Homo sapiens: one gene and its partner. The protein of the gene in region 1 interacts with the protein of each later gene in a pairwise test. Each region holds a gene or a part of one and is shown in the gene's direction. Other genes may lie near its edges.

The links.
Region 2: the proteins of SLC52A1 (region 1) and SLC7A1 interact in binary tests that used the Homo sapiens proteins (3 or more experiments, as listed by UniProt).

The regions. Positions count from the first base shown.
Region 1 is NC_000017.11:5,032,565-5,037,034, reverse strand, and holds SLC52A1 (solute carrier family 52, riboflavin transporter, member 1 precursor), read left to right. Parts: upstream 1-1,608; 5' UTR 1,609-2,174; intron 2,175-2,287; exon of another isoform or gene 2,288-2,321; 5' UTR 2,322-2,428; coding exon 2,429-2,558; intron 2,559-2,676; coding exon 2,677-3,556; intron 3,557-3,650; coding exon 3,651-3,774; intron 3,775-3,865; coding exon 3,866-4,078; 3' UTR 4,079-4,433; downstream 4,434-4,470. UniProt on the Homo sapiens protein: Plasma membrane transporter mediating the uptake by cells of the water soluble vitamin B2/riboflavin that plays a key role in biochemical oxidation-reduction reactions of the carbohydrate, lipid, and amino acid metabolism.
Region 2 is NC_000013.11:29,585,621-29,589,422, reverse strand, and holds part of SLC7A1 (high affinity cationic amino acid transporter 1), read left to right. Parts: intron 1-2,630; exon of another isoform or gene 2,631-2,698; intron 2,699-3,802. UniProt on the Homo sapiens protein: High-affinity, low capacity permease involved in the transport of the cationic amino acids (arginine, lysine and ornithine) in non-hepatic tissues.

The DNA.
Region 1 (4,470 bases):
TGGGACTACAGATATTGATTTTTTTTTCCAACCATTTAAAAATGTAAAAACAGCTGGACGTGGTGGCATGTGCTTGTAGTCCCAGCTGCTCAGGAGGCTGAGGTGGGAGGATCCTTGAGCCCAGGTATTTGAGGCTGCAGTGAGCTGTGATTGTGCTACTGCACTTCCTTTTGAGGAAGACACTTTCTCAAAAATAGTAATAAAAATAAATAAATAAATATGTGAAAACCTGTCTTAGCTAGCAGGCCATACAAAAATGGGTAGTAGGTCAGGGTAATCCCTGAGATGGTCAGTGAGTAAACAAGTACAAAATATCATTAAAGGGCCAGACATGGTGGCTCACGCCTGTAATCCCAGCACTTTGGGAGGCTGAGGCGGGCGGATCACCTGAGGTCAGGAGTTCGAGACGAGCCTGGCCAATATGGTGAAACCCCATCTCTACGAAAAATACAAAAATTATCCAGGCGTGGTGGCAGGCGTCTGTAATCCCAGCTACTCGGGAGTCTGAGGCAGGAGAATGGCGTGAACCTGGAAGGTGGAGCTTGCAGTGAGCCGAGATCGCGCCACTGCACTCCAGCCTGGGCGACAGAGCGAGACTCCGTCTCAAAAAAAAAAAAAAAAAAAAAAAAAAGCAAAAATTAGCCAGGTGTGCACACCACGTCCAGCTAATTTTTTTTCAACCATTTAAAAGTGTAAAAACAGCTGGCCAGGCACGGTGGCTCACGCCTGTAATCCCCAACACTTTGGGAGGCCGGGGCAGGTGGATCACCTGAGGTCAGGAGTTCAAGACCAGCCTAGCTAACATGGCGAGACCCTGTGCACTAAAAAGACAAAAATTAGCAGGGCATGGTGGTGGGCGCCTGTAATTCCAGCTACTCGGGAGGCTGAGGCAGGAGAATGGCTTGAACCCGGGAGGCAGAGGCTCGTGCCATTGCACTCCAGCCTGGGCAACAAGAGCAAAACTCCGTCTCAAAAAAAAAAAAAAAAAAAAAAAGTGTAAAAACAGCTGAGCGTGGCGGTAGCTAGGTGTGGTGCGTCTGTAGTCCCAGCTACTTGGGAGGCTGAGGTAGGAAGATTGCTTGAGCCCAGGAGTGCCAAGCCAGCCTGAGCAACATAGTGAGACCTTGTCTCTACCAAAAAAAAAAAAAAAAAAAAAAAAAATTAGCTGGACATGGTGATGCTCGCCTGTGGTCCCAGCTACTTGTGGGGGGGTGGGGAGAGGCTGAGTGGGAGGATCCCTTGAGCTTGGGAGGTTGAGGCTGTAGTGAGCCGCGATCGCGCACCGCTGCGCTCTAGCCTGGGTGACAGAGTGAGACCCCGTCTCAAAATTAATTAATTAATTAAAACAACAAACAACAAAACCCCAGCTGTGTGGGCTCTGGGCTGGGCCGCCTCCCCGGCGGAGGGGGCTCCCTCTCAGGCAGACCGCCAGCCGCTGGGTCCGGGGACTGCCGGATCCGGAGGTGCGGGGACCCCTGCGCACCTGGCGGCTCCCGGGATGCCCCCCTGAGGCAGGCGGGAGGGCAGCACGGAGACGCCCCTCCGGGCAGAGCCCGCCCCAGCCACTCCCCTCTCCAACTCGACCTGCCTCAGCAAGTCCTGAGTGTCGCAAAAGCGCTAGGGTTGCAAGTGGCACCAGAGACGTGCCCTTGTCCCGGGGTCCATTTGAGGGTGAGCGTGTTGGTGCCGAGCTGTTTTTTTGTTTTGTTTTGTTTTGTTTTGTTTTTGAGACCGAATCTCGTTCTGTCGCCCAGGCTGGAATGCAGTGGTGTGATCTTGGCTCACTGCAACCTCCACCTTCCGGGTTCAAGTGAATCTCCTGCCTCAGCCTCCTGAGTAGCTGGGATTACTGGCACCCACCACCACGACCAGCTAATTTTTGTATTTTTAGTAGAGACGGGTTTTCACCATGTTGGCCAGGATGGTCTCAATCTCCTGACCTCAGGCGATCTGCCTTCCTCAGCTTCCCAAAGTGCTGGGATTACAGGTGTGAGCCACCGCACCCGGCCAGTGCTGAGCTGTTTTGACAACTTGGACCCCGGGTCCTCTGTGGGTAGGAAAATCAGCTCCCTCTTTGCTCCTCTGGGGCAGCTGCACCTCGGGCCAGCTTTCTGCCTGTCTGCCTGCCGGCACTGCTGGGTCGCTGTACCCAAACGCACAGCCGGTGCCCCGTGGTAAGTCCTGGCTCCCCACCTTCCCCGCCCGCCCCCGGCCACCTCTCCCTCCAGTTGCCCTGGTCTTAGCAGTCTGACCGACTTGTCTTCTGACTCCGGTTCTGTCCCACCAGCCTATTACCTGCCAGCCTGTCTGTTTCCCTCCAGCTAGAAGGTCTTCAGTTTCCAGAAGAACCAAAGCATCTTTGGACCTACCTAGGGAAGGACCTGCCTGTGACCTTTGCCCTGTCCTGGAGGGTCCAGCTTTGGGCTGAATGGCAGCACCCACGCTGGGCCGTCTGGTGCTGACCCACCTGCTGGTGGCCCTTTTTGGCATGGGCTCCTGGGCTGCTGTGAACGGGATCTGGGTGGAGCTGCCTGTGGTGGTAAAAGACCTTCCAGAGGGTGAGTGGGAGGGAGGTACAGGGAAGCGTGGGGCAGGTATGCCCAGAAAGGTGGCCTGTGGCAGCTCTTTGTCCCTTAGCCACTGTGCTCCTGACATGGCATCATTCCTTCCCTGCAGGTTGGAGCCTCCCCTCATACCTCTCTGTGGTTGTGGCGCTGGGAAACCTGGGTCTGCTGGTGGTGACCCTGTGGAGGCAGCTGGCCCCGGGCAAGGGCGAGCAGGTCCCCATCCAGGTGGTACAGGTGCTGAGTGTAGTGGGCACAGCCCTGCTGGCCCCTCTGTGGCACCACGTGGCCCCAGTGGCAGGGCAGCTCCACTCTGTGGCCTTCCTAACTCTGGCCTTGGTGTTGGCAATGGCCTGTTGTACCTCTAATGTCACTTTCCTGCCCTTCCTGAGCCACCTGCCACCTCCTTTCTTACGGTCTTTCTTCCTGGGTCAGGGTCTCAGTGCCCTACTCCCCTGTGTGCTGGCCCTAGTGCAAGGTGTGGGCCGCCTCGAGTGCCCACCAGCGCCCACCAATGGCACCTCTGGGCCTCCCCTCGACTTCCCTGAGCGTTTTCCTGCCAGCACCTTCTTCTGGGCACTGACTGCCCTTCTGGTCACTTCAGCTGCCGCCTTCCGGGGTCTCCTGTTGCTGTTGCCATCACTACCCTCTGTAACCACAGGGGGCTCAGGGCCTGAACTTCAACTGGGATCCCCAGGAGCAGAGGAGGAAGAGAAGGAGGAAGAAGAGGCTTTGCCATTGCAGGAGCCACCGAGCCAGGCAGCAGGCACCATCCCTGGCCCAGACCCTGAGGCCCATCAGCTGTTCTCAGCCCATGGTGCCTTCCTGCTGGGCCTGATGGCCTTCACCAGTGCCGTGACCAATGGCGTGCTGCCTTCTGTGCAGAGCTTTTCCTGTTTGCCCTATGGGCGCCTGGCCTACCACCTGGCTGTGGTGCTGGGCAGTGCCGCCAACCCCCTTGCCTGCTTCCTGGCCATGGGCGTGCTGTGCAGGTGCAAAAGGGTCCCCAGGCTTGGTGGGTGGAACTTAAGGTTGGGGTCCAGGTCCCAGAACAGCCAGCCCTGAGTCTCTGCTCATCCCCAACAGGTCCCTGGCAGGGCTGGTTGGTCTTTCTCTGCTGGGCATGCTCTTTGGGGCCTACCTGATGGCACTGGCAATCCTGAGCCCCTGCCCACCCCTGGTGGGCACCACTGCAGGGGTGGTCCTTGTGGTGAGCAAGTGGAGACATGAAGTGGGGAGGAGGGTGTCCCCTGGAGCAAGTGCATGTCATGCTCAGCCTGCTGCTGTGTCCTCCCTTGCAGGTGCTGTCGTGGGTGCTGTGTCTGTGTGTGTTCTCATATGTGAAGGTGGCTGCAAGCTCCCTGCTGCATGGTGGGGGTCGGCCGGCATTGCTGGCAGCTGGTGTGGCCATCCAAGTGGGCTCCCTGCTTGGTGCCGGTGCCATGTTCCCTCCCACCAGCATCTACCACGTGTTTCAAAGCAGAAAGGACTGTGTAGACCCCTGTGGCCCCTGAGCCTGGGCAGGTGGGGACCCAACTCCACCCCACCTGTCTTCATCGTGAGGCTGCCACAGTGCCTGACTACTTGTGGCCCAGGCAGGCTTCCCCCAACACAGGAACGCTCATGGACACCTGCACACTCCACAGAAGACGTTGGCATGTGAGGCCAGGGTGGGCACCAAAGACCAGGCCCAGAGCCAGGGGACAGGTTGGGGCTGTGGGCTTGGACCCAGGGCCTGAGACCTTTGTGGGATTTGTGCAATAAAGTGTTTTTATTTAAAACCAAAAACAAAAACAAAAGCCTAATGAAAACCTTATAAGAAATATATAATGAAATCAGGAAACTGGATTAAATAATTTTTCATACATATATTATCTAGTGTGCAATTAGATTTAAATACAGATTG
Region 2 (3,802 bases), on another chromosome or scaffold:
CACCAGCCTTTGGCTGGATGCAATGCCTCCTGCCCAGACCACAATGGAGCCTTGTTTGATTTATCACCATCCAGCCACGCCCACACTCCACCTCCATCTCCACCTGGGGAGACCCCTTTGCAGGGGGTCTTGTGGAAATCAGAGACTGTTCGTAGGGGAAAGTCAGCTTCCTTTTCTGTGTTCCATCCTTCTTAAGGCCAGTGGCCGCTGTCATCCTGCCCTTGGCTTGGCTTTGCTGATTTCTACAATATCTTGCGGAGGTGCCCCCTTTCCTTAGAGGATGCATCTTTAACACTCTCAGAGAGGCTGGGGCAGGAGCTGTCCACACCAGGGCCTGCAGCAAGGGCCCGTCTTCCCCAAAGTGACTTGGGAGAGTCTTCCTGGCCCGCAGCTTTTCCACAGTGTCAGGGACACCTCCTGCCCTCCCTTGGGATGAGGCCTGGTCTAGGAGCTGGGGGCGTTAGGGTGCAGTTTCTGGGACCCAGTGAAGGCCCCTGGGAAAGACTGGCAGTTAGAGTTAGGAGAACTCTTCCCTCATCCCTTTTGCCCTTCTCCTTTTCCCCTTTTCTTTTTCAGCAGTTTTTGGATAACATTTCAAACTTAAAGAAAAGTTGCAGAGGCCAGGCATGGTGGCTCACGCCTGTAATCCCAGCACTTTGGGAGGCTGAGGCAAACAGATCACTTGAGGCCAGGAGTTTGAGACCAGCCCTGGCCAACATGGTGAAACTCATGTCTACGAAAAATACAAAAGTTAGCCTGGTGTTGGTGGCGCATGCCTATAGTTGCAGCTACTCGGGAGGCTGAGACACAGGAATCACTTGAACCCGGGAGGCGGAGGTTGCAGGGAGCCGAGATCACACCACTGCACTCCAGCCTGGGTAACAGAGTGAGATACTGTCTCAAAAAAAAAAAAAGAAAGAAAAGAAAAGAAAATTTGCAGGAGTGCAAGGAACTCCTGGGTACCGTCTCTCAGATGCACAGGTGGGTTATGTTTTGCCTCCTTCTATTCTCTCTCCACCCCACACAAACTCACATGCACACAGACACATACATTTTTTTCTGAACCATTTGAGAGTCAGCTGAAGACGTCATGCCATTTTATTTGCCCTCTATACTTCAGTGTATATTTCCTAAGAACAAGGCTCTTCTCTCACATAACCATGGTACAATAGCAAAGTCAGGAAATTTAACATTAATACAACCCTGCGATCTAGGCCACAGTCCATATTTGACTTGCAGTCGTCCACATAATGTCCTTTATAGCTAAGTATTTTTGGGGAAGGAGTTTTGCAGTGTGGGGGTTCTTTCAAAAGAGGTGTGATTTTCTACCTCATAAGCCTTTTTAAGAAAAAGTGTTTCTAAAAGTTAGAATGTTTGTTGTGGAAAATTTGGAAACTACAGAAAATTAAAAGAAGGAGAAAATAAAACCCATTCATAATTCCAGCTCAGAGGCTGAGTGATCGACCAGAAAGGTGGTGGAAAGACTTTCTCAGCTCCTTCAGCTCTGGTGACCTGGCCACACAGACTCGTGATCCCTCCACCACCCACACACTAGTCAGGAGCCCCGCAGCCAAGTCCTGGGGCTGTGGGAGGAGCCGGCCCCTGTCTGGAGCTGACGGTCTTTCATGCTCCTGCCCACCCCTTGGGCAGGTGCCCACCGAGCAGGCAGACTTAACCAGCCTTGGTGGTGCCTTTGTGGTGCATATCCTCCAGGTGGGGAAGGGTGGAGATCGTTAATAAATATCCAGAACTTGTTTGAGACTTGAAAAGAAATGTTGCAGGCCCACTCTTGTCTGGTCTATACCCCTTGCTTCCTGGACTTGGCAGAGGTTAAGGATGGGGCCTGGAGCGTGATTGAGGGAAACAGCACTGGCCCCATATCAGTGAGCTCTTGGGTGCTTCATGTGGTTGTTAGACTTGCCTTTTAATGAGCCTCTTGGCCCCTACCAGTGGGCTACGGAAGAAATAAAATGTGAAATTTTACCATGTGAAGTTTGCTGTTTGCCAATGACTGTGCTTCTCAAAAGTTCCTAGGGAAAGGTTTTAAAACTGGTGCAGGTAGTGAAGTTTGGATCTCGCTTCCCTGCTTTGTCCGCTTAGGTGGTCCATTCGCCATAACAGCTGGAACTGAGAGTGGCTCTCCCCTTTCCTGGCCCAGAACGGGTCTTTGCTAAGCGAGTCTGGTTTCTGGAAGGATTTTGTTCTTAGAAGCTACTACGTCATTGTCCTCAGCTCCCCATCATTTGTACCTCAGTTTCCCTGAGCTGTAAGTCTATGTTATGTGTGAAAATGGGCCTCTGAAGGTCATGATCAAAAGCCTTGAGTATTTTTCCATGTGTTTGTTTTTTCTACTCCGGCCCCAGACCCTCTCCTTGAAGGAGCTGGCCTTGAGAGTGACTTCGGTGGGCAGCCGCCCAGACTCCACACACCCTGCTGAGTCCACGTAACGCCCAACCTGGACGGGCCAGAGCTGAAGGGCTACTCTTCAAAGAAACCCTTTGAAGTGCAAACATTTCCTTTCCTGAAAAGAAGGGAAATTGAAATGAAAACGTATTGTTCTGTGCAGACAATGTTCTCTTCGATCAAAGAGGGAGTGGGGCTTATAAAGGGAGATGCACAAATTAGAGCTTGATGTGGCCAGTGGTGTGGATGTGAATATTCATCCCTGTGGAGGAAAATAGTGGGGTCTCTGAGATTTGTAAGATTGTATTTTCCTTTTTTTTCTTCTTTTTCCTTAAGGCTCTGAATCTAGGTCTAACGTTCTATTTAATGATGTCTCTCCTTTGTGTTTTTATCTTGTGGTAAGCATTTGGGAGTGTCTTTCAGTAAATCATGATACCATTTCCATGTTAGAATACTATGTAGCCAGTAAGAATGGCGTTTTCAAAGAACATTTGATTTTGTGGGAGAAACTTTAATGTTAAAAGTGAAACCATCTGGGTGCAATTTCCCATGTTCCGTGTTAGCTTAATGAGATATATGTATTTGCACAGAAAGAAAAGACTGGAAAAATTGGACTTTGTTTTTCTCACTGCAGTGTTTGTGGCACCTAAAATAGTGCTCAAGAAATATTTATTGAATGACTATTCTTATAATTAGTAAAACTGTATTTAAAGGAGGAATGTCTTTGAGCTAATGTTTTGGCAGGTGGATGGGACAATATATTATTTTAAGTTTCTGTTGTAATTTTGCCCTAGCAGCTCAGTTCTGGTAGATTTTGTTCTTTGGCACACATACATACCCCATTTTGCACTTTGGTACAAATTATACTGTGAATGGGTGACTTTGACATTTATATTTTTGGAAGAATCCAGTTCTACTGAAATCAGAGTATCAGATGTTGTCTTTTTCCTAATGTTCCCAGATGGGGTAGAATTACAGCTTCTTCTTACTTACTCTGTAACTAAGGAACCTTTGGGCCAGTTTGTCCTGTCCTGTGGTTGAGAATTTTTGCCTGGTTTGCCCAGGGTTTCTCATCCTTGAGCATCCAAGGCTACCAAGATACACTGTTCATATGTCGTCCTGGTTTCTAATGGATAGTTATCTAAAAATGCAGCTTCCCATTCTTACCTGCACTGTAGGTTAGCTTGGAAGATGTCCATCCCTGGTCTCAGTGGTCTTGTTCAGGGAGGGTGACTGTCACAGCTGTCCTTTCCTCTCTGGTGAGATTGTTTCATTCCTCCTTCAGGCACTTGGGATTCAGAGCCCTGTTGGCTGCCTCTTCTGTACTGTCAGCTTAGCACAGGATTCTGGAAGCCCGGTGCTGGGAAAGCCTTTCTCTGGGCTGTTTGGGATGGGACTA